7 linked regions of the Homo sapiens genome follow. The protein of the gene in region 1 purifies or fractionates together with the protein of each later gene. This does not show direct contact. Each region holds a gene or a part of one and is shown in the gene's direction. Other genes may lie near its edges. The genes, in order: NLN, ACOT13, SLC19A3, RPIA, PFAS, OLA1 and WARS2.

Region 1 (3,500 bases):
ATTCAGTGAGTATAATTCCTAAACAAAAATTCAGGAGTTGTGGTCTGGAAACCAAAAAGTTATTTGTTGTCTGATGTGAAAATTTATTTATATGGAAAATCTTAGAAAGTCAGACAAATTCAATTACAGTTTTCTTGGTGTTTTTGTTTGTTTGTTTGAGACAGAGTCTCACTTGGTTGCCCAGGCTAGAGTGCAGTGGCATGATCATGGCTCACTGCAGCCTCGACCTCCCGGGCTCAAACGATCCTCCCACTTCAGCCTCCCGAGTAGCTGGGACTACAGGTGTTTGCCACCACACCCGGCTAATCTTTGTATTTCTTGTAGAGACAGGGCTTCGCCATGTTGCCCAAGCTGGTCTCTAATTCCTGGGCTCGAGTGATCTGCCCGCCTCAACCTTCCAGAGTGCTGGGATTACAGGCATGAGCTACTGGGCCCAGCCTAAATTACAGTTATTAATAAACTTAACAATATTTACAGGTCTAAGTGTAATTAAATAAAATTGAGATTATTCCTCTAAAACCAGTAGGCATAATCTCCAAAATGTTAAGAGAACAGTATTGGGGAAAAAAATCTAGTAAAGAAAGGGTTTTTTAAGTTAAAGTATCAAGAGCTAGGTTGACATTATTTGTACAAATGGATTTGGTTATAAAATAGGTTTTCTTTTCTTTTTTTTTTTTTTTTTTTTTTTAGGATGGAGTCTTGCACTGTTGCCCGGGCTGGAGTGCAGTGGCACGATCTTGGATCACTGCAACCTCCGCCTCCTGGGTTCAAGTGATTCTCCTGCCTCAGCCTCCGGAGTAGCTGGGATTACAGGCACCTGCCACCACGCCCAGCTAATATTTTGTATTTTTAGCAGAGACGGGGTTTTACCATGTTGGCTAGGCTGGTCTCGAACTCCTGATCTCATGATTCACCCGCGTCGGCCTCCCAAAGTGCTGGGATTACAGGCGTGAACCACCGTGCTCCGCCGAGGATTGATTTCTTTCTTTTTTGTTTGTCCTTTAACCCTGGTTTTGGTCAGAAGCAACCTGGTTCTTTCTCAGAGTTAAACATTATCACCTCTTTGGTTAAGACAAAGCACAGGACTTACTTGGGAAGAATCCCCTGAATTAAAGATATGAAGAACCAAGGAAACTGATGTGTATTGAATACATATGTAAATGCCAAGCTGCCGCATTGCAAAGTGCATGTAGCATCATAGAGTCGACTATATAAATCTAGAAACAGCTCGCCTGAGTTTGAATGCTGGTTTTGCCACTGACTAGCATTGTGATCTTAGGCAAGAATACTTAAGTTCTCCGTATCTGTTTCCTCCTCAGTAAATTGATAATTGATTGGCTGATTTCTTCATTCACCAAATATTTATTGTCTATTATATGCGAAATAGTATTCTTGGTCTGGGGATATAGCAATGAACAAAGCAGATAAAAATCTTTGCATTAATGGAACTTACATTCCAGTGGGAGAGACAACTAAGGAAAATATAAAGTAAGTTAGATGGGAAAATGTGCTGCAGAGCAAAAGTAAAATGGGAAAGGGGAATGCTCAGTACCGATAGGAAGGAAATTGTAGAGTCAACAGGAAAGGCTACCAAGAAAGTGATATTAATACTTGAGTAATGATCTAAGAGAAATGAGCAGTTGTGCTATGTGAATACCTGAGGCAGGTCATTCTAAGCAGGAGAAACGGCACACACCAAGGCTCTGAAAGCAGGGCTATGCCTGGTGTTTTTGAGAAAGTAAAGAGACCATTGTGACTAGCATGGAATAAATGTCAGGCAAGTAAGTAGGAGATGAGACAGGGAAAAATTGGACTCATCCTTTTTTTTCTATTTTCTTCTTTTTTTTTTTTTGTTTTATTCGTTTGTTTTTAGATGGAGTCTCACTCTATTGCTCGGGCTAGAGTGCAATGGCGCAATCTCAGCTCACTGCAACCTCCTCCTCCTGGGTTCAAGCAATTCTCCCACCTCAGCCTCCTGAGTAGCTGGGATTACAGGCACCCGCCATCATGCCCAGCTAATTTTTGTATTTTTTGTAGAAACAGGGGTTCACCATGTTGGCCAGGCTGGAACTCTTGACCTCAAGTGACCCACCTGCCTCTGCCTCCCAAAGTGCTGGGATTACAGGCGTGAGCCACCGTGCCTGGCCTGTACTCACCTTTTAAGATTGAAACAAATATAGAACACTTTGAACATTGCCTGGTTATATCCATTCCTATTACCACAAAAATGCTGTATAACAAACTGAATTTCAGTGGAGTACAATGATCAATGTTTATTTTTGCTGACAAATCTAGATTTTGGCTGGGCAGTTTTTCTGATCTTAACTCATTCATGCTCCTTCAGTCAGCCATGGGTTGTGTAGGCAGCTCTGCTGATCTCTGCTATCCTCTCTCACATGTTTGGTGATGTAGGATGGCCACAGCTGGGGCTATTTGGCCCTCTTTCCTGTGACGTCTCGTCCTCCAAGAAGCCACCTCTGGCTTGTTCTCATGTCAGTGGCAGGGTTCCATGAGAGAGTGGAAGGCAGTTGGAACTGGAACCTCATTAGCTCTGCCACATTCTACTGGTCAAAGCAAGTCACAAGGCTAGCCCAGATTCAAGAAGTGGGGAAACAGACTCTATCTCTTGATGGGTAGAACAGCAAACTCACATTGTTAAGAGACATAGACTCATAGCAGGTAGAAAATTGAGGCCATGTTAGTTATCAGTCTACCACATCGGCACATAATAAAATCTCGAGAAATATTAGTTACTGTTTTTACTTGTGTGAATTGCCTAGTTTTATTTTGGGATTTTTAAAATTAGGATTATTACTTTGTAAGAGCCCCTCATAGATGTTTCAGTTGTTTTTGATCTTTGAACTTTTGGGGTAGATTATTGTTGCTTTTTGCTTTTTTGCTTTATCCCTACAAAAGTTTAAATTTTTATACAGTCAGAAATATCAGTCTTTTCCTTTATGATTTCTGCCTTTGGTCTCATTCCTAGAAAGTCCTTCTCCACCCCAAGATTATGTATTTTAAAAATCACCTACATTTTCTTTTTTTTTTTTTTTTTTTTTTTTTTCAGACAGAGTCTAGCTCTGTCACCCAGGCTGGAGTATAGTGGAACAATCTCATCTCTCTGTAACCTCTGCCTCCCAGTCTCAAGCAGTCCTCCCACGTCAGCCTTCCAAGTAGTTGGGACTACAGGTGTGAGCCACCACACCTGGCTAATTTTTGTATTATTTGTAGAGACAAGGTTTCACCATGTTGCCCAGGCTGATCTCAAACTCCTGGGCTCAAGCAATCCTTCCACCTCAGCCTCCCAAAGTGCTACGATTACAGGCATGAGCCACCACACCCAGCATCTACATTTTCTTCTAGTACTTTTATGTTTCATTTTTCACACTTAAACCCTTTATCTATCATGAGGGCTGACTTTTTTAAAAAGACTTCTTCAAATTATTGAGTGAAACAAAAAGGAAATCAACACCGAAACTGCAAAACTGCAAGAAGTATAA
Region 2 (3,500 bases), on another chromosome or scaffold:
CAAACTGTATTCCAAATCCCTTCTGTGTGATAACTGTCTAAACAACTGAGACTAAACACATTTATATTATTAGTAACGCATGAGATTCAATTAGCTGCTTATCTCCTTAACTGCACCTATAGATTTTGTCCTAAAATATTCCAGCCTTAAAATCTAGAACTAGAGCAGTTAATTTGCAAGTACAGTGTGTATCAATAGTAAAAAGGGAATGATCCCAAACATTCAAAAGAGCAACATTCAGCTTTTAATGTGTATACTGATGCAGGGGGAAAAATCACAAACTGATGGCTCATAACTGTTTCATACAGTCCTTAAAAGTGCCATTCAGGGCCAGACGCAGTGGCTCACGCCTATAATCCCAGCACTTTGGGAGGCCGAGGCAAGAGGATTGCTTGAAGCCTGGAGTTCAAGACCCCCATCTCTACAAAAAATAAATATTATTTAATTTTAAAAATACCACTTATAACACTATGAGGATTGTATTGAGTACATACAATTCAAAGTAAAGTTAGAGTTCATATACACATTATAATCTTACTCTAACAAACTGAACACCATTGCTGGGGTTTTTTTTTTTTTTTGGACACGGAGTCTCCCCATCACCCAGGCTGGAGTGCAGCGGCACAATCTGGCTCACTTCAGCCTCCGCCTCTGGGGCTCAAGTAATTCTCCTGCCTCAGCCTCCCTAGTAGCTGGGATTACAGGTGTGCGCCACCATGCTGGGCTAATTTTTGTGTTTTTAGTAAAGACGGGGTTTCACCATGTTGGCCAGGCTGGTCTTGAACTCCTGACCTCCAGTGTCCACCCACCTCAGCCTCCCAAAGTGTTGAGTTTTAAGAATGGGCAGCAATCCTGGATCTCTCCCTGTGACTACACAGACATGTTCTGTGAGTTAAACTACATGATCAGGGAACAGTGCCCCTCAGGGTCAAACTTCCAAAATGTAAGAAACTCAATTCCAACATAAACTGGTACTACTGCAGCCCCATTCAATAAAGAAAGAGCTGGGCACAGGGATTTAGTTTCAAGACAACTGCTTTTTCCACCTAAGCAACAAAAATGTAACTAACTGAGAGGTCAGGTTGAGAGAGCCATTGTGAGTAGATATGAGGGTAATGGAAATAATGTAGGCTTTTTTTTTTTTTTTTTTTGAGACGGAGTCTCGCTTTGTGGCCCAGGCTGGAGTGCAGTGGTGCAGTCTCGGCTCACTGCAAGCTCCGCCTCCCGGGTTCACACCATTCTCCTGCCTCAGCCTCCCGAGTAGCTGGGACTACAGGCGCCTGCCACCATGCCCGACTAATTTGTTTGTATTTTTAGTAGAGATGGGGTTTCACCGTGTTAGCCAGGCTGGTCTCGATCTCCTCACCTTGTGATCTGCCCGCCTTGGCCTCCCAAAGTGCTGGGATTACAGGCGTGAGCCACCGCGCCCAGCCAATGTAGGCTTTTAAGGAATCTAAATATTTTATCAAGTTTACTTAAGAAACATTCAGTCCCTCTTCATGGGAATAACTTAAATTGAGGGTACAATAAGCAAATTACAAGATGCAGCCAAATGCTCTTTTTGAAATTAAGATGTACAGAAAAGAAAGGCTCTGCTTATGTTACTGGTGTGCATATTCAGCAGTCCTTATTTCATGTGGTAAGAGGTGAGATCAGTAGATGACTTGATTTTCCCTAAAAGTCTCTATTAAGAGCAGAGAGATCTTCAAACCTAGCACTGCATTTCATGATCTACTAAGGTACTTTTGCCTTTAGAACCCTAAGGAATTTTCAGTAAGTCAAACATAGTTTTGGCCTTTCAAATATGTGTTGCCAAAAGCATTGGCCATCAAGAGCTGCCTACGCTTCAAAAACTGATTCACTTCAACAAAAACTAGGACATGGTCTTTCAAAAGTTAGAGATATTTCAAAAGTAAATGAATAATGTTTCAGTCAGTTAACACTTCATGATTCACTCTTTGATTTACTTGACATGGTACCAAATTTACTCCACCCCTGCACATCAAGTCCTATATTATACAGACTGAGGATGCCTGTTAGACTGTGACTTAGGTTAAAAACAAGCGAGGTTCCAAAACAACAAAAGGGGAAATTTTAGAGTATTACTGACAAAATGTCAATCTCCAAATTCCCCGGACTTAATGTTTACTCATCTGTAGCACAAAGGGTTCCTTATCTTCCCTCAGTTTAAGTTAATGGCTGTTAGCCAAAATTCTTGATTTCTAAGACAAAATTTAGGGAAATAATAAAAACTGGCCAAACTACTACTAAACATACTATTTTTCATTTCTTTACATTGAGGTATGTGAATTAAAGACAAGCCTGTTCTTTCCAGCAATAAGATCCACCTTTTTTTTTTTTTTTTTTTTTTTTTTGTGAGATGGAATCTTGCTCTGTTGCCCAGGCTGGAGTCCAGTGGCGCGATCTCGGCTCACTGCAACCTCTGCCTCCTGGGTTCCTGCCATTCTTCTGCCTCAGCCTCAAAAGTAGCTGAGATTACAGGTGCCCACCACCATGCCTAGCTAACTTCTGTATTTTTAGTTGAGACGGGGTTTCACCACGTTGGCCGGGCTGGTCTCGAACTCCTGCCCTCAGGTGATCTGCCCACCTCGGCCTCCCAAAGTGCTGGGATTACAGGCTTGAGCCATCGTGCCCGGCCAGATCCACCTTTCTTATACCTCCTAGCCATAAATACTGAAGTCTTATTTTGAATATGGCAAAAATACATATCCTTTTTAAAGGTTTCTTTCTAAAAAGCAGAAACATAAAAATAAACTGTAAGGAAATTATTTCCCTTTAAAACATTAACATTTGTTTTAAACAATCCTCATCTCCCCAATTTTTTTTTTAATTAGCTGGAGCCAGCTGAGTTAAAGACAACTTATGATTACAAGTGACTAGGATGTACATCTCTTAAAAATATAGACAGTCCATCATCAAGATTGTAAGGACATCATATCAATTCCTTATAGTTGTTATATTGTCATTTTAGAGTCAAATAAATTGTAAATATGGATAGGACAATATACAGACACCAAGTGATATTTCATCTAAGAAGTTAAGGAGATTAAATGAAAGCTGGAGGAAATCTTTCACCAGCCCCAAATAAATGTGAAGTGGGAAATGTAAAGGGAAAAAAGGGGAGGCAAGAAAACCTCTTCTCACATATTTGGGAAAAGAAACTTGTGTGGGTAAGGAATGGGTAAAATAGAACCTGGTTAGGACCAGCCATTCACATTTGATAGTACAGAAAGCTTACCAATACTACCGTTAAAACTATTTTTAGGAGTAAAATAAGTTACATAGGAACACTGTTGTGAGATGCACACAACTTTCCCTTTGAAAAATTATCTGCTGTTAACTATATTCATTTTCTTTCAAGGTACATGTCACCTGCAAAATTAGGAGAAGATATAGTGATTACAGCACATGTTCTGAAGCAAGGAAAAACACTTGCATTTACCTCTGTGGATCTGACCAACAAGGCCACAGGAAAATTA
Region 3 (3,500 bases), on another chromosome or scaffold:
GATGAAGTTACAGCCAGAATACAATAACTCCCTAGAAGTTGGTGGAACCACCTTCCAATTTTTATTTTATTTTATTATTTTATTTTATTTTATTTTATTTTATTTTTTTGAGACAGAGTCTCGCTCTGTCACCCAGGCCACAATGCAGTGGCACTATCTTGGCTTACTGCAGCCTCCACCTCCTGGGTTCAAGAGATTCTTGTGCCTCAGCCTCCCAAGTAGCTGGGAGTATAGGAACCCACCACCATGCCCAGCTAATTCTTTTGTATTTGTATTAGAGACGGGGTTTCACCATTTTGGCCAGGCTGGTCTCGAACTCCTGACCTGAGGTGATCTGCCTGTCTCAGCCTCCCAAAATGCTGGGATTAAAGGCGGGAGCCACCGCGCCTGGCCACCACCCACTAATTCTGACTGCAGCAGAACGACGGTGGTTAAGCAAGACCCTGGAATCCTTTCCCCTGCCTTCCTTCAGGACCATCTTGCCCTGACTTAAGCTGACTGCAGCCCTTTGCTTTATTTGAATGTTTTACTGAAAGTTATATTCTCTTCTATTTTAGTAATAAGCAGATTAAAAGGCATAATTAGTTTGTCTGCTCTGATATGTCAGCTAAAAGCAAATATTTTTGTTTTTAGTAATCAGACTTTGAGTTTGCTCTGTCTAGGGAAGGGCTTGACTCTAGCAGTGTTGAAAGCCTGGGAGGTGGGCTTTTTGGAAACTGTAACTGATATAACATAAAATGTATTTGGTCTTTAAGCTAAAACTTTTGGGAATTCCTGAGTAACAGGTGTCTTTTTATTCATAATGACCCTCTTTGATAACGTGTTTATGCTAATAAGATAGCTTGGAGTGGGGTCCATAGATAGTCTAAAAACTGGGGGGGAAGGAGCTGAAGATCATGCTCTGTAAGATTCGTTTTTCTTTTTTTTAATATTTAAAGAGATGGGGTCTCTATGTTGCCCAGGCGGGTCTTGAACTGGCTAATTTTTATATTTTTAGTACAGACCGAGTTTTGCCATGTTGGCCAGGCTGGTCTCGAACTCCTAACTTCAGGTGATCCACCCGTCTCGGCCTCCCAAAGTGCTGGGATTACAGGTGTAAGCCACCGCACCCAGCCTTATTTTGTATTTTTGTAGAGATGGAGTCTGGCAAACATATAATTACCAATTTATTGCTCTTCTGTTTGAAAGAAGTGTTTTGACTGCAGTAAAGTTCTAGCCTATTGTGAAAATCAGGCTAGCCCATTTCTCAGATGGCTGCCTGGCTAGACACCCTCTCTGAGATGGCTGGAATGATTAGTAGAAAGGAGTGGGCAGGAAGTAGGTGGAGAGTGGGGATTCTAGATCAGGGGTCCTATGGCCTGTTAAGAACGGGCCATTACAGCAGGAGGTGAGTGGCGGGCAAGCAAGCATTACCACCTGAGCTCCGTCTCCCGTCAGATCAGTGGCGGCATTAGATTCTCCTGGAAGTGCAAATCCTACTGTGAACTGTGCATGCAAGGGATCTAGGTTACGAGCTCCTTGTGAGAATCTAATGCCTGATGATCTGAGATGGAACAGTTTCATCCCAAAACCATTCCCCCTAACTCCTCCCCCATTTTTTCATGGAAAAATTGTCTTCCATGAAACGGGTTCCTGGTGCCAGGAAGGTTGGGTACCACTATTGTAGATAATTTCCTTCCAAATTACTGGCATCTGGGTTAATTCTGGCAGTATTGTCAGTACAACATGGACGAGGACTTGATAAAGTGATTTCTTTCCACCCACCCAATATCTTGTTCTTCTCCAGGCAGTCAGTTGTGGGAAACTTATCAGGTTTGAGGGAGTTACTTGCTTTCATCAGGTCACCTTGTCCCCTACCTCAGGGAGCCCCACAGCTCTGAGTGCTTTGGCTGTGGGAGAATTCCATCCTCTGGGTGTGCAAGTGGGTGTGTATGGGTGGAGGAATCTGACCAAATAAGGCTTTACCTTAGCTAGAAAATCACCCTGGCTTCAGGAAACCCACCAGTGCATGCCAGCTTTGCAGTTCTTTTGTTGTTGTTGTTTTTGGGACAGAGTCTCGCTCTGTCACCCAGGCTGGAGTGCATTTGCTCAATCTTGGCATTTGCAACCTCCACTTCCCAGGTACAAGTGATTCTCGTGCCTCAGTCTGCCAAGTAGCTGGAATTACAGGTGCCCGCCACCATGCCTGGCTAATTTTTGCATTTTTTAGTTTGAGACGGGGTTTCACCAATGTTGGCCAGGCTGATCTTGAACTCCTGACCTCAAGTCATCCACCCGCCTCAGCCTCCCAAAGTGCTGGGATTACAGGCATGAGGCACAGTGCCCGGCCTCAGTTTCTGCAGTTCTTGCTTTTTAACAGTTGTTTACCCTACAAAAATGGAAAATATACTTGGAAATATTTGTGGACATAGGGCTTTTAAGTATATGCACTTAGAGATAGATACAGACAACCTATGGATTAGGAAATAGGACACTATCCATGTCTGAAATTTAAATAAGGTCCAAATTAGCTTAGATCCAATATGATTCCCCAATGCATATATGAACAATACGTGAACATTGTTGTGTGCACAACTATGGAAAGGTCTTAATCCGCACAGTGACTCTGAGATAAGACTCACTGAAGGAAATACAGCAGCAAACCCAGGAGATGTGAGTTCCAATCTTCATTTGTAACTCACTCCAAATGAGATCCTAGCAATGAAGTAATTTTTTTTTGTTTCCCACTAAAAACAAATAAACAAAAACCTTAGTTTTTCTATGCTACAGAATTAGGATGACAAATGAACTTATCTTGCAGTCACTATAAGAACACTGACAGTTTCAGAGATAGTATTAAAAATCAACTAAACACTTATAATTATTGTGAAAGCATTTATCTATCAAAGAAGGTTAGCCTGCAGCCAGTTGGAAAGTTTTTTTTGTTGTTTTTTTGGTTTGTTTGTTTGTTTGTTTGTTTGTTTGTTTGATAGAGACAGGGTCTCACTATGTTGCCAGGCTCTCCTGGGCTCAAGCAATCCTCCCGCCTCAGCCTCCCAAAATGCTGGGATTACAGGCATGAGCCACCGTGTCCGGCTGCCAGGTGGAAAGAACAATTTAAGGAGATGGTTAAAAGTGGAAAAGCCAATAACATGGTAATAATTGAAATAAAAGAAGAAAGAAAAAATTGAACTCTGATACAAAGAGACTACAACTGTGTAATAGGTTGCATAAAAAGAAATTTTGCAAACATGTAATAGGTTGCAAGGCAGATAAAAACAAAAATCATGAGAAGCCACTCCTGCCAAATTCATTCATAGTCAAAATACAAGTTAACTTTTGTGGGAGATTAAAAAAAAGAAAACTAAGAGCATTTTAAAATGAAGTAGGATTAGGTATGCTAGCAAGAGAGTTTTTTTCAAAAGGCTGTGGCACCCCACGTACCCCAAAGAAGGGGAGCCAGCAGTAAACAATGTGGCCTTATGTGGAATACATGGCAATGGGCTCCAAATACAGATTCA
Region 4 (3,500 bases), on another chromosome or scaffold:
TTTGTTGGCAGTTTTTTTAATTACTGTTTCAGTGTCGCTGCTTGTTATTGATTTGTTCATAGTTTCTGTTTCTTCCTGCTTTAATCTAAGAGGCTTGTATATTTCCAGATTTTCTAGTTCATGCACATACAGGTGTTCATAGTAGCCTTGAATGATCTTTTGTATTTCTGTGGTATTGGTTGCAGTATCTCCCATTTCATTTGTAATTGAGCTTATTTGGATCTTCTCTCTTCTTTTCTTGGTTAATCTCACTAATGGTCTATCGATTTTATCTTTTCAAAGAACCAGGTTTTTGTTTCATTTATCTTTTTTGTATTTTTTGTTTCAATTTCATTTAGTTCTGCTCTTATCTTAGTTATTTCTTTTCTTCTGTTGGGTTTGAGTGTGGTTTGTTCTTGTTTCTCTAGTTCCTTGAAGTGTAACCTCAGATTATCTGTACTCTTTCAGAGTTTTTGGTTTAGGCATTTAAGGCTATGAGCTTTCCTCTTAGCACTGCTTTTGCTGTATCCCAGAGGTTTTGATAGGTTGTATCACTATTATTATTCAGTTCAAATAATTTTTAAATTTCCATCTTGATTTCATTGTTGACCCAGAGATCATTCAGGAGCAGATTATTTAATTTCCATGTATTTGTATAGTTTTGAGGGTTCCTTTTGGAGTTGATTTCCAATTTTATTCCACTGTGATCTGTGAGAGTACTTGATATAATTTAGATTTTTTAAAATTTATTGAGACTTGTTTTGTAGCCTGTCATGTTGGAGAATGTTCCAGGCTGAAGAAAAGAATATATATTCTGTACTTCTTAGGCGGAAAGTTCTATAGATATCTGTTAAGTCCATTTGCTCCAGAGTATAGTTTAATTTCATTGTTTCTTTGTTGACTTTCTGTCTTGATGACCTGTCTAGTGCTGTCAGTGGAGTACTTAAGTCTCCCACTATTATTGTATTGCCATCTATCTCATTTCTTAGGTCTAGTAGTAACAGTTTTATAAATTTGCGAGCTTTAGTATTAGGTGCATATATATTTAGAATTGTGATATTTTCCTGTTGGACTAATCCTTGTATCATTATATAATGTTCCTCTTTGTCTTTTCTAACTTGTTGCTTTAAAGTCTATTTTGTCTCATAGAAGAATAGCTACTCCTGCTTGCTTTTGGTTTCTGTTTGTGTGGAGTATCTTTTCCCACCCCTTTACAGTAAGTTTATGTGAATCCTTATGTGTTAGGTGAGTCTCTTGAAGACAACAGATACATGGTTGGTGGATTTTTATGCATTCTGCCATTGTGTATCTTTTTATTTTTTTGAGACAGAGTTTCACTCTTGTTGCCCAGGCTGGAGTGCAATGGCATGTTCTTGGCTCACTGCAACCTTCACCTCTCAGGTTCAGGCAATTCTCCTGCCTCACCCTCCTGAGTAGCTGGGATTACAGGTGCCCGCCACCATGACTGGCTAATTTTTTTGTGGTTTTAGTAGAGACGGGGTTTCACCATATTGGCCAGGCTGGTCTCAAACTCCTGACCTCAGGTGATCTGCCTGCCTTGGCCGCCCACCAAGCCTGGCCCATTGTGTACCTTTTAAGTAGAGCATTTAGGCAGTTTACATTCAGCGTTAATATTGAGATATGAGGTATTATTTTATTCATCATGGTAGTTGTCTCCTGGATACCTTGTTTTTTTGCACTGTGATATTGTTTCATAGGTCCTGTGAAATTTATGCTTTAAGGAGGTTCTATTTAGGTGTATTGTGAGTTTTGTATCAAGATTTAGAACTCATTTTAGCATTTCTTGTAGGACTGGCTTGGTAGTGGCGAATTCTCTCAGCATTTGTTTGTCTGAAAATGACTGTATCTCTTCCTTATTTATGAAGCTTAGTTTTGCTGGATACAAAATTCTTGGCTGATAATTAATTTGTTTAAGGAGGCTAAAGATAAGACCCCAATCCCTTCTGGCTTGTAGGGCTTCTGCTGAGAAATCTGCTGTTAATTTGATAGGCTTTCTTTTATAGGTTACCTAATGCTTTTGCCTGGCAGCTTTCAAGATTCTTTCCTTTGTCTTACTTTAGATGACCTGATGACTATATGCCTAGGTGGTGATCTTTTTGCAATGAATTTCCTGAGTGTTCTTCAAGCATTTTTATTTGGATGTCTAGATTTCCAGCAATACCAGGAAAGTTTTCCTCAATTATTCCCTCAAGTAAGCTTTCCAAACTTTTTGATTTCTCTCCTCTCCTTCCTCAGGAACATCAGTTATTCTTATGTTTGATTGTTTAACATAATCCCAAATTTCTTGGAGGCTTTGTTCATTTTTTTGATTCTTTTTTTCTTTGTCTTTCTTGGATTAGGTTAATTTGAAAGCCTTGTCTTCGAGCTCTGAAGTTCTTTTTTTCTACTCGTTCTAATCTGTTGTTGAAATTTCCCAGTGTATTTTGCATTTCTAAAATGTGTCTTTCATTTCCAGAAGTTTGATTATCTTTTCTTTATGATATCTGTTTCTCTGGAGTCCTTTTAAATTTTCTTTAAGTTGGTTTTCACCTTTCTCTGGTACCTCCTTGAGTAGCTTAATAATCAACCTTCTGAATTCTTTATCTGGCAATTCAGAGATTTCTTCTTGGTTTGGCTCCGTTACTGGAGAGCTAGTGTGATCTTTGGGAGGTGCTGTAGAACCTCGTTTTGTCGTATTACCAGAATTTGTTTTCTAGTTCCTTCTCATTTGAGTAGACTGTTTCATTGGAAAGATCTGGAACCCAAGGGCTGCTGTTCAGATTCTTTTGTCCAATGGGGTGATCCCTTGATGGGGTGTTCTTCGCCTTCCCCTAAGGATGAGGATTCTTGAGAGCTGGACTGCAGTGGTTATGCCCTTCTGGGGTTAGCCACCCAGTGCGGCTACTGGGCTCCAGGCTGGTATTGGGGAATGTCTGCAGAAAGTCCTGTGATGTGATCTGTCTTTAGGTCCCCGAGCTGTGGATACCAGCACCTGCTTCGGTGGAGGTGGCAGGAGAGTGAAGTGGACTCTGTGGGAGTCCCTGGTTGTATTTTTGTTTAGTGCACTGGTTTTCTTGAATGCTGGTTTATGCTAGCAGTGAAGTTGCCATGTGGACAGACTCAGGATCTCTGGTTAGCCAGGATGTTGCAGGCGGTGGAATTAGCTGTTGTTTTTCCCTTTTTGGAGCAGGGTTGTTCTGTTACGAGTTTCTGTAGTGGCTTGAGTTGGTTGGCCTTCAGCGAGGAGGTGGTGCTTTCAAGAAAGCATCAGCTGTAGTAGTATAGGGGGGATACAAGCTTGTCTATGTAGGCCAGGATAAGTATTTTGGTTTCTTAGGTAATGGGCAGGGCCATAGAGCTCCCAAGAGTTTATGTCTTTTGTCTTTGGCTACCAGGGCAGGTAGAGAAAAACCATCAGGTTAGGGCAGAGTTAGGTGGGTCTGAGTCAGACTTTCCTTGGGCAGGGCTTGCTGTGGCCACTGTGTGGGGTTGGGGAGTGGTTCTCAGGTCAATGGAGTTAT
Region 5 (3,500 bases), on another chromosome or scaffold:
CCATCTCAAAAAAAAAAAAGCTGGTCAGGCTTCTCCCTAACATCAGCTTCCTCTGTGTTCACGCTGCCTTGCTTTCGAGGCCTCTTCTCGTGGCTTCCCCAGTGTTCTGATTCTGCCTTCCCTTCTTACAGGCATGGAAGTTGTAAAGGTTGGAGGTCCCGTCTACAGGATTGGAGTTGGAGGTGGAGCTGCTTCATCTGTGCAGGTGAGTGGGAATTGCTAAAGGTGCAGAATCCTTGATATAACCGGGCCCCAGGCATAGGGGAGCGTATAGGAGCTTCCAGTCTCGCTGAGCTGAGCTATGCCATATATGCCCCCAGGTGCAGGGAGATAACACCAGTGACCTGGACTTTGGGGCTGTGCAGCGAGGAGACCCGGAGATGGAACAGAAGATGAACCGTGTGATCAGGGCTTGTGTGGAGGCCCCCAAGGGAAACCCCATCTGCAGCCTTCATGATCAGGGCGCTGGTGGCAATGGTGAGGAAAGGAGTTGGAACAAGAGACTGGGCCTGCCTGGTATCCTGCCAGGTTTCGTTTAGGGAGAGGTATCAGGAATCTCCAACCAACCACCCAGCTCTGGGTCCCATTCTCCATGCTCTGTACATTCTAGACAGGTTCAGGGTTGGAAGGGTGGAAGCCTGCTGCCGTGGGATGATTGGTGGTAAGGGTGCGGCAGCAGTTGACACAGGAACACACCAAATTACAGGCCCCTTTGGAGGCCAGGGACTGCCCTTTGTTGCCTGACCACCACTAGGTCACTGCTTCTCCTTGCAACCCTCTCACCAGGCAATGTCCTAAAAGAGCTGAGTGACCCAGCTGGAGCCATCATTTACACCAGCCGCTTCCAGGTGGGTCTCGTCCCCTGAAGTGTGACATTTTCCCACCCCTGCCAGCCCCAGCCCGCTTCCACCCATCTCTCTTGCAACAACATGAGACGTGGGAGTGCCCACTGGCCCTTCTCTTTCCTCCCCGCCGTGGCTGTGCAGCTTGGGGACCCAACCCTGAATGCCCTGGAAATCTGGGGGGCTGAGTACCAGGAATCAAATGCTCTTCTGCTGAGGTCCCCCAACCGGGACTTCCTGACTCATGTCAGTGCCCGTGAACGTTGCCCGGCTTGCTTCGTGGGCACCATCACTGGAGACCGGAGAGTGAGTTGGCCCAGGGAGTTGGGAGCAAACACTGGGGCAGACATGAGCCACCTGGGTATGGGCTAGAGGGAGAGCTGTCAAGGGAGAGAGACGAGAGGAAGATGGGAGGTAGTGGCAAACAAGCTGTGGGGAATGTTGGATCCAAGGAGGGGCAGGGACTCAATATGGAAACCAAACAAGGAGTGGAAAGCACATTTGTGCCCTGATTTCTAGGAACATTCCTTGCTGGTGTTCATAGTCTCATCCCCTCTGGGTGGGGTCCCTGTGGTCTATAGATAGTGCTGGTGGACGATCGGGAGTGTCCTGTCAGAAGAAATGGCCAGGGGGATGCCCCCCCGACACCCCTGCCAACCCCTGTGGACCTGGAGCTCGAATGGGTGCTGGGCAAGATGCCTCGGAAGGTATGTGGGGTTGAGGGGATGGGTTTTTCCTGTGGTCCTCTCCACACCACCCTTTACCCTACGTGCACTTTGTCGCCTGTGTGCCCAGCCCGCCCCAGGTGTTCACACTGCCTGTCGCTGTCTGTGTTGCAGGAGTTCTTCCTGCAGAGGAAGCCCCCCATGCTGCAGCCTCTGGCCTTGCCCCCAGGGCTGAGCGTGCACCAGGCTCTGGAGAGGGTTCTGAGGCTGCCCGCCGTGGCCAGCAAGCGCTACCTCACCAATAAGGTCCTCCCTGCACCCTTCCTCTGCCCCCTGCCTCCTTCCTCCGCTCAGCCTCTTCTGCCCTCCCACCCTTAGAAAGTGCTGTGGGGGTTTTTGCCTGGCCCTGCAGGAAGCAGCAGGGGCAGGGCAGCCACCCTGATGGCCTGGTCTCCCTGCTACCCACCTTCTAAGTAGAGCTGTTGTCTGCATTGGGGGAAAGACAGGCCTCCCACTGCCCTGAGTGCCTTGGGGGCATGTGCGGGAGCTCAGGCTGTCCCTGTCCCTTGCTCTCTTGCTAACCCCACCTGGTTCCACAGGTGGACCGCTCTGTGGGAGGCCTGGTGGCCCAGCAGCAGTGCGTGGGGCCCCTGCAAACTCCTCTGGCAGATGTAGCGGTTGTGGCACTGAGCCATGAGGAGCTCATAGGGGCTGCCACAGCCTTGGGAGAACAGCCAGTCAAGAGCCTGCTGGACCCAAAAGTCGCCGCCCGGCTGGCCGTGGCCGAAGCCCTCACCAACCTGGTGTTTGCTCTGGTCACTGACCTCCGGGTGAGTTCTCCCACAGCTTCTATCCTGGAGCCCCCGGGCTTCAGGACCCTTCCACATCCATCTGTAGCCCTTCATTTCATGTTGCAACCTCCCAGTCCGCCTGCACCCCTGGCCTCTCCACATTTCTCTTCCCCTCTAATGCTGTGCCTCTGCCACCCCCAGGATGTGAAGTGTAGCGGGAACTGGATGTGGGCAGCCAAGCTCCCAGGGGAGGGCGCAGCTTTGGCGGATGCCTGTGAGGCTATGGTGGCAGTGATGGCAGCCCTGGGTGTGGCAGTGGATGGTGGCAAGGACTCCCTCAGCATGGCTGCTCGGGTTGGCACTGAGACCGTGCGGGCTCCTGGTGAGGTGTGGGAGCCCCAGGGAGGGGAGGAGGAACTATGGAGCTGGGTTGGCAACTCATTCCTTTGGACTCCTCCTTGCTCTACAGGGTCACTGGTCATCTCAGCCTATGCCGTCTGCCCAGACATCACAGCCACTGTGACCCCAGACCTCAAGCATCCTGAAGGGAGAGGTATGGACATGGCCCCATCCTTTGTGATCTTTGCTTGTGTGATCTTTGTTTGGCTCCTGCTTTGTGAGTGCTGGGCCCCCATCTCAACACTGGGCTGTGGTGTTTTCTGGGACTGATTGTCTAGGTGTCTCACCACATGCTGGGAATAGCAGTGCTGTGAGCCCCTCAGGGATGGGTCCTCCTGAGCTGTTCCCCTCCCCTCACCCCTCCCCGTCTCCCCAGGCCATCTGCTCTATGTGGCTCTGAGCCCTGGGCAGCACCGGCTCGGGGGCACAGCTCTGGCCCAGTGCTTCTCCCAGCTTGGGGAACACCCTCCAGACCTGGACCTTCCTGAGAACTTGGTGCGGGCCTTCAGCATCACTCAGGGGCTGCTGAAAGGTGAGTGAAGACCCCTGGGGAGATAGCGCACAGGGTGCCAGGCGTGCAGCAGGCGTTCACCATCTGAGCAGTGGGGCAAAAGGGACTCCAATGGACGATGTACCCCAGATCCCCTGACATTCTGACACACACTCTTGATGGACTGACTCCGGAAGGTGGGGTGGGGCTGTCAGGTTTGGGTCCCGAGGTTGCTGAGCTTTCTTCTCCTTCCTCCAGACCGCCTCCTCTGCTCAGGCCACGATGTCAGTGACGGAGGCCTCGTCACATGCCT
Region 6 (3,500 bases), on another chromosome or scaffold:
TTTAATTACCCTAGGTTTATTTCATAGATGTAATTAAAAATCATTTTGGGACATTTCCCACTTTTGTTTGATAGTAAAAGTCACAAAAGTAAAGCAGACAGCCAAAGAACCTCACTCACTTTTCATCTTCCCTGTGTTTTCTATGACAGTGAAAGTCACAAAAGTGAAGCTGGCAGGCAAAGAGCCTAACTCACTTTACGGGAGAGTGCTACGGTACCTTTTTCTTTTAGTGAGGCTATAGCAGGTCTGATGTCAGTCACTTTAGAGACCTTTAGACCTCAGTGCTCATTTACTGCTAAAATGTACCAGCTCTGCTTCTGCATTATGAAGATCATCTGTCAACACTTTGAGATATTCTCCTTTGTTATTAAGCTTGTGATGCTCTACACTGTCAGGTTTTTTGCCAATTATAGTTAAGGTACAATAGTGTATTCACCAGATCAAAGTCTCACATTGGCGGTAGAGGAATGATTTGTAAGTCTTTATTCATTTGAATTGTACAATAGAACACCTGAGGAATGCAAATAATCCCTCTGAGAACTCTGCAGGAAAGGCTGTTAAAATGACAGGGTAGGACTATTGTTATTCTGAATTGATGTGTTAGCTAAAGTAATTATTTCTTATCTTGTTGTTTCATAACAGTTCTAGTTTTATTAGTTCTGTTGACCATATTTATGAAATAAAGTGTGTATGATATTTTTATATTCTCCTTTTACATGGGCTTGTTTTATTTCACTTTCATTGAATCTATTTGGTATGTGATCTGCTTTTTTAAAATTACATATTTGATTTTAACTTGTATAATGAAAGTAAGTTACTAAACCATTGATGATAACATTTGAATATAGACTTTTGTTTGAATAGTGTAAGTCTGTGAAGTAACTTAGAATACCATAATGTTAACGGAGACAGAAGCACCAATTTCAGTCCCCCCACCTTTTTTTTAACCTGTCCTTCTTAATTTTGGTTAAGAAAACATCTAGTTTGAATTTTATGTTAAAGGCAACATAAATCATAGGACTTGGTCCATTTTTTGGGATATGAACAAAAGAAAAAATACTATTATGAAGATTGAAAACCACAAATAACATACTAAATAAGTAGTTACCTTTGTATAACAAACATATACAAACTCTTGTGTGATTGTTTTTCATTCCTTTCTCCCATCCTAAATCCTGCTCAATGGGCCATAGTCTTAATTTTCTAATAACTCTGCTCCCCTGCCATTGATGGATTTGTGACTTAGTTCTTGTTTTTCTTTTCCCCTAAAGTGGCATTTACATTAATTATTTAAAGGACTTCTGCCACAGCATTTTGCCATAATAACTATTAAAACCTTTGTCTAAATATAGCAGTCTAGTGGAATTATGTAAGCCTATAGCATAATTTTATAAAAATTTTAATGGAATGTATAGTCTCACACTAAACTCAGTTCCAGATTCATAGGAATGTATGCTATGATTATCTGAGAAGGAAAATTAATAATAGTAACTGCTGTTAATTCTTTACTATTTGCAGGCTTTTCTAGGTTCCTTACAATATAATATGTACTATTATTATCTCTATTTTTACAAGTGAGGAAACTGAGGCTTAGAAACGTTCAGTAACCTGCCCAGTAATAAAAAGCTAGGAAAGTGTTAGGCTCTGAACCTAATTAATATATTCACTACACTTATTTCATTTATGTTCTAATTACTACTTTGCCAAATACTCCATGCTTTGGAAGGAAAAAAAATGACTCAATAATGTCTTTTCAGGTAACAACTAGGATCAGTTTCCTAACTGATTTGGCTTTCCAAATCCTTTGTGATTAAAGGAATTTCTTTCCTCTGCAGTTCTATTATTCTTGTTCTCACAAAAGTCAGGTTCATACAGCTGCGTACGTGATCAACCATATTTGTAAATCTGTATTTCTGCACGTGCTTGTTCTGGCTAGGAAAAAGCTTCCTCAAAACTAGTGACCACTGTGAGTTCTGTTAGTCCATGAAGGAACTAAACCAGGCATATAGATATCTGGCTGGAACAAATTATTTATTTGTGAAGGGCTCTTCAGAATTAGCTGGTATTTTTAGGTATGATTCCTGTACAAACAGAACTTTATGTCTTCTTTTAAAAATTTACTTTGTAAAGTAAGGAAAACAAAAAATTATAAAATGGAAGCTTTATTCAAGGGTACAGGTGTTAATGCTGAACAATTTTAGTGTAACTAAAAAAAGTTTTTAAATATTTGTATAATAGTTTCCATAGATAATGTGCTAAAGTAAAACTAGGTTACAGTAAAATACTATGGCGTATACCTGAAGCAGTTGCTGCCTGTTAATGCCTTGACCTTGGAAAGCTATATACAAAAAGATGGCATCATAAAACCGTGCAATTCTTATGAATATGTATGTGCTACTTGATAATAATGAATGTGGTACAGTCATGCATGCACTACAAGATAATGTTGTGCCCTTTTTTGTCTACAGGTTGATAAAAATTAAAGAGTGGGTGGACAAGTATGACCCAGGTGCTTTGGTCATTCCTTTTAGTGGGGCCTTGGAACTCAAGTTGCAAGAATTGAGTGCTGAGGAGAGACAGAAGTATCTGGAAGCGAACATGACACAAAGGTTAATTAGCATTCATTTTCCCTACACTTTATTATCAACTATTTCCTTGCAGTAATTTAATTGCTTGCGCTGATAGAATAATAAATGACAGAGTAATTACCATTATAAAGAGGGAATCTTCTCCTTTCTTTACCATGAGACAGAGTGAAAAGATTTATTTTAAATTAAGTTTTTAACTGTCATCTGTCATCTCCGTACAGTGTTTTAATTATAACATAGGTATTAGTTATGTATATTTTTGAGAAGGAATGATCGCCAAAACTCTTTCGTCATGTTCAGTGGGGGAGGGGAAAGGGTGAATCAGTTGCCATAATTTTTTCTGAGTAACAGTAATATATTGTTTAAATATCAGATTTCAATCAAATAATTTTGCTTTTATGGCCAGGTCCTGGAAATAATTAATTTTGGATGAAAATAGTCATAATTTTTCTTTTTTTAAATAGCAAACAATTCAAAATAATATCTTCAGGCTAATACAATTAAAACCAATTTTAGAAGAGAGGTTTTTAAAAACAGTTACTTGCTTTCTGAACCCTTCCAGTGTATTCTGAAAGATGAATGGTCATTTACTACTATCTTTAACATTTTCTGCTTGAAATGAATAATTTTAGCTCTATACCAATTTCTGGCACAATCAACTTATGTGTTGGGTGAATTTGTTTCATTTGATTTCAGTGCTTTGCCAAAGATCATTAAGGCTGGGTTTGCAGCACTCCAACTAGAATACTTTTTCACTGCAGGCCCAGATGAAGTGCGTGCATGGACCATCAGGGTAAGATTCATACTTATTCATCAGCTATATCCAGTTCCACACTATTGAATTCAGATTGATATCACTGACTTTGAAGTTTGTCATGGTGGCGGTTAGCTAGTCATTACAGATGAGGTTTT
Region 7 (3,500 bases), on another chromosome or scaffold:
CACCGCAGCCTCCACCTCCGCCTCCGGGTTCAAGAGATTCTTCTGCCTCAGCCTCCGGAGTACCTGGGATTACAGGCATGCACCACCACACCCAGCTAATTATGTATTTTTAACAGGGACCGGGTTTCGCCTTGTTGGTCAGGCTAGTCTCGAACTCCCGACCTCAGGTGACCCGCCCACCTTGGCCTCCCAAAGTGCTGCATTACAAGCGTGAGCCAATGCACCTGGCCAACATTCACTTATTGACCTTAGAAGAAGAGAAACCACTCTGGGTCTGCTGTCATGGTCCTTACATTTTGCCTTTCCATTGATTGTTCTGTTCTTGTTTTCCTTAAATTAAAAGAGCTCTCAGAATTCCTGTAACATACCATTTATATTTTGGGATTACCTGATCAGATATGTGAACTGTCAGTTTCAAGTAAGTTTTCTATGCATATCAGGATCACTGCCCAGGTCTGTGACTATCTCTGGGATTATGCATTACTATTTGTGGTATGTCAGCTCTGAAAAAGGAAAATGATCTGGTGTGAAAAAAGTCAGTGTACCCCTCATCAAGGTTCTCTATAGTATCTTTATTTTACCATTTGTCCTTCATTTTACCTTTATTTGTCCTTCATCATGTCAGATATTAATGAATATATAGTTATATATTATATCAATAGCAACCATTTATTGAGCTCTTACTATCAATTAGTATACGTGTTATCCATGAAAGAGCTATATGAGGTAAGCTCCATGATGAACCTCACTTTACAGAGGAAACGAAGGCTTAGAAAGGGTAAGAAACTTGCCTATGATGGCTCGCTGCTTTTTTCACAGGAGCAATATTGTTTCTTTGATTAAAAAAACCTCAGCGCACTGTATTACTTGTATTATCAGGTATAAACTCCCAGCCAAGCATTGCATGTATAAAATTGCCTGTTTTTTAATCCCGCCATATTGCTTCAGTATAAAATTTTCCTCATCAAGACTTCTCTATAATGGTTCATTCTTCCCTTATTTGATGTACTATGTCATGATCTGACACTGCAAACTTTACATATGGGATTAAACTCATGATGAAGTCATTCCCTATATTCTGATATTTTTGGTTTCACATCTTCATTTCTTCATAATATGAAATATTACAGATAAAATTCAAGTCTCCTTTGTTCTTTTCTTCAGATCTATTTCCTTTCCACCTTCTCTAGAAGCAGCTACAATTACAAATTTGGGGAGGAGCTTCCAGTATGTTTTTTTACTTATTATTACAGATATATTTCCATAGGCACTTGTAAAATTTACGTAAATGTCAGTGTATTTCATGTTTTCTCCAACTTGCTTTTTTCATCCCACATAGTTTTTGATAGCCATCTACATTGTACTTATAGATTTTAAGTTCTCTGCAACATATTAATTGTCCTGTGATTGCAATGTACTTGAAAATGAAGCTTACTCCAAAGAATATTGAATTACTCCCTATGTGACAGGGAGGAAAAACTCTTGCCTGAAGAACTTTCTGCTGCCTTTGATTTGAAGAGTGGGGTGGGGTGTCTTTCAAGTATGAGCTGTAGTTCTGAGGTAAAGAGCATCTGGTCAGGGCTGGGAATAATATGTGCTGACTGGGTGAGGGAATGAGGAGTAGTTTTAAAACACAATTGTGCCTAGAGCATATGCTATTTAAAATCCCATTCCTCCCTCCCAGCAAGATCCTGTCATGCTGGTGTTGATGGCTGTATTCCCCTGCTGTGGAAAAAACACAACTAGAGTAGAGAAACATCTCTTTGGCTTTTGTCTGATCCATAGATAAAGACTTAGGTCTAAACATTCCCTCTATAGTTGGTGAACATTTGTTGAATACCAACAGTGAAATATTCACAGGAAATGCAGCTGCTTGCAATATCATTTCTGTCTCTAAGAAAGAGCCTTGCTGTTGTTTTTCTGTCTGTCTTTTATTAAAGGTCCACACACGTTCCTGTTGGGGAGGATCAAGTCCAGCACATGGAACTAGTTCAGGATCTAGCACAAGGTTTCAACAAGAAGTATGGGGAGTTCTTTCCAGTGCCCGAGTCCATTCTCAGTAAGTAAGAAACTTATAATTGTTACATCAGGGTATATTCTAAAGAGAGGATTGGACAATAGATAGGCTTGGAACTTTCTTGGGACTAACCTCAGCTTTCTTGTAGACAGGCTTCAGGATCTGTAACTAGAGTCCTCATTGTTTTCTCTAGTGTAGGACTAGAAAGTAGACTACGTTGGATTCCTGAAAAAGATGTTGGATTATTGAAAAGGATAACTAAAAATATTTTAAAAGTATGGAAGAGACCAAAAATTTAAAATAATATTTATAAAGTAGTATATAATTTATGAAGTATGAACAGATGCTTCTTGACTTATAATTGGGTTACATCCTGATAAAGCCATTGTAAGTTGGAAACACTGTTAATCAAAAATGCATTTAACACACATAACCTACTGAACATCACAGCTTAGCCTAGCCCACCTTCAGCGTGCTCAGAACACTTACATTAGTCTATAATTGGGCAGAATCATCTAACACAAAGCCTATTTTATAATAAAGTATTGAATATCTCATGTAATTTATTGAATACTATACTGAAAGTGAAAAACAGAATGGTTGTGTGGGTATTTCAAGTACAGTTTCTACTGAATGGATATCACATTTGCACCACTGTAAAGTTGAAAAATCATAATTCAAACCATTGCAAGTTGGGAACTGTCTGTGTGTACATCTTGGTGATCTGTTTGTTTTGTTTTTGTTTTGGGTATGTGTGTGTTGGTGTTTTTAACCTAGCATCCATGAAGAAGGTAAAATCCCTACGTGATCCTTCTGCCAAAATGTCGAAATCAGACCCTGACAAACTGGCCACCGTCCGAATAACAGACAGCCCAGAGGAGATAGTGCAGAAATTCCGCAAGGCTGTGACAGACTTCACCTCGGAGGTCACCTATGACCCGGCTGGCCGCGCTGGCGTGTCCAACATAGTGGCGGTGCATGCCGCGGTGACGGGGCTCTCCGTGGAGGAAGTGGTGCGCCGCAGCGCGGGCATGAACACTGCTCGCTACAAGCTGGCCGTGGCAGATGCTGTGATTGAGAAGTTTGCCCCAATTAAGCGTGAAATTGAAAAACTGAAGCTGGACAAGGACCATTTAGAGAAGGTTTTACAAATTGGATCAGCAAAAGCCAAAGAATTAGCATACACTGTGTGCCAGGAGGTGAAGAAATTGGTGGGTTTTCTATAGGAAGTTTCAACGAATCACAGCAAGGCTTTTGTGCCTTGCACTCCATGCATTCTGATAACGGCAGCTTTCCTAAAAAGAAAAAGTTATAGTTTTGGGACATTTAATTTGGTATAGCTGATTATTGGCTTTATTTGATGAATATTGCTTTGTAGCTTTGAAATACGACAGTGTTCCAAATCCCATCAACAAAATGCTGTGAACAACAACAACAAAAAATAAATCAAGAAGGCATAGCTGTCTGAATCCCCAATTATTGA

What was found.
Region 2: the proteins of NLN (region 1) and ACOT13 fractionate together in Homo sapiens (co-fractionation; one large-scale study listed by BioGRID). This does not show direct contact.
Region 3: the proteins of NLN (region 1) and SLC19A3 fractionate together in Homo sapiens (co-fractionation; one large-scale study listed by BioGRID). This does not show direct contact.
Region 4: the proteins of NLN (region 1) and RPIA fractionate together in Homo sapiens (co-fractionation; one large-scale study listed by BioGRID). This does not show direct contact.
Region 5: the proteins of NLN (region 1) and PFAS fractionate together in Homo sapiens (co-fractionation; one large-scale study listed by BioGRID). This does not show direct contact.
Region 6: the proteins of NLN (region 1) and OLA1 fractionate together in Homo sapiens (co-fractionation; one large-scale study listed by BioGRID). This does not show direct contact.
Region 7: the proteins of NLN (region 1) and WARS2 fractionate together in Homo sapiens (co-fractionation; one large-scale study listed by BioGRID). This does not show direct contact.

The regions. Positions count from the first base shown.
Region 1 is NC_000005.10:65,728,705-65,732,204, forward strand, and holds part of NLN (neurolysin, mitochondrial), read left to right. Parts: intron 1-3,500. UniProt on the Homo sapiens protein: Hydrolyzes oligopeptides such as neurotensin, bradykinin and dynorphin A. Acts as a regulator of cannabinoid signaling pathway by mediating degradation of hemopressin, an antagonist peptide of the cannabinoid receptor CNR1.
Region 2 is NC_000006.12:24,698,077-24,701,576, forward strand, and holds part of ACOT13 (acyl-coenzyme A thioesterase 13), read left to right. Parts: intron 1-3,382; coding exon 3,383-3,500. UniProt on the Homo sapiens protein: Catalyzes the hydrolysis of acyl-CoAs into free fatty acids and coenzyme A (CoASH), regulating their respective intracellular levels. Has acyl-CoA thioesterase activity towards medium (C12) and long-chain (C18) fatty acyl-CoA substrates.
Region 3 is NC_000002.12:227,708,029-227,711,528, reverse strand, and holds part of SLC19A3 (thiamine transporter 2), read left to right. Parts: intron 1-3,500. UniProt on the Homo sapiens protein: Mediates high affinity thiamine uptake, probably via a proton anti-port mechanism. Has no folate transport activity. Mediates H(+)-dependent pyridoxine transport.
Region 4 is NC_000002.12:88,743,673-88,747,172, forward strand, and holds part of RPIA (ribose-5-phosphate isomerase), read left to right. Parts: intron 1-3,500. UniProt on the Homo sapiens protein: Catalyzes the reversible conversion of ribose-5-phosphate to ribulose 5-phosphate and participates in the first step of the non-oxidative branch of the pentose phosphate pathway.
Region 5 is NC_000017.11:8,262,789-8,266,288, forward strand, and holds part of PFAS (phosphoribosylformylglycinamidine synthase), read left to right. Parts: intron 1-131; coding exon 132-205; intron 206-320; coding exon 321-477; intron 478-786; coding exon 787-848; intron 849-986; coding exon 987-1,148; intron 1,149-1,423; coding exon 1,424-1,549; intron 1,550-1,681; coding exon 1,682-1,813; intron 1,814-2,106; coding exon 2,107-2,337; intron 2,338-2,499; coding exon 2,500-2,680; intron 2,681-2,767; coding exon 2,768-2,851; intron 2,852-3,073; coding exon 3,074-3,229; intron 3,230-3,445; coding exon 3,446-3,500. UniProt on the Homo sapiens protein: Phosphoribosylformylglycinamidine synthase involved in the purines biosynthetic pathway. Catalyzes the ATP-dependent conversion of formylglycinamide ribonucleotide (FGAR) and glutamine to yield formylglycinamidine ribonucleotide (FGAM) and glutamate.
Region 6 is NC_000002.12:174,081,033-174,084,532, reverse strand, and holds part of OLA1 (obg-like ATPase 1), read left to right. Parts: intron 1-2,468; coding exon 2,469-2,609; intron 2,610-3,284; coding exon 3,285-3,381; intron 3,382-3,500. UniProt on the Homo sapiens protein: Hydrolyzes ATP, and can also hydrolyze GTP with lower efficiency. Has lower affinity for GTP.
Region 7 is NC_000001.11:119,032,654-119,036,153, reverse strand, and holds part of WARS2 (tryptophan--tRNA ligase, mitochondrial isoform 1 precursor), read left to right. Parts: intron 1-1,940; coding exon 1,941-2,059; intron 2,060-2,765; coding exon of another isoform or gene 2,766-2,794; coding exon 2,795-3,243; 3' UTR 3,244-3,500. UniProt on the Homo sapiens protein: Catalyzes the attachment of tryptophan to tRNA(Trp) in a two-step reaction: tryptophan is first activated by ATP to form Trp-AMP and then transferred to the acceptor end of tRNA(Trp).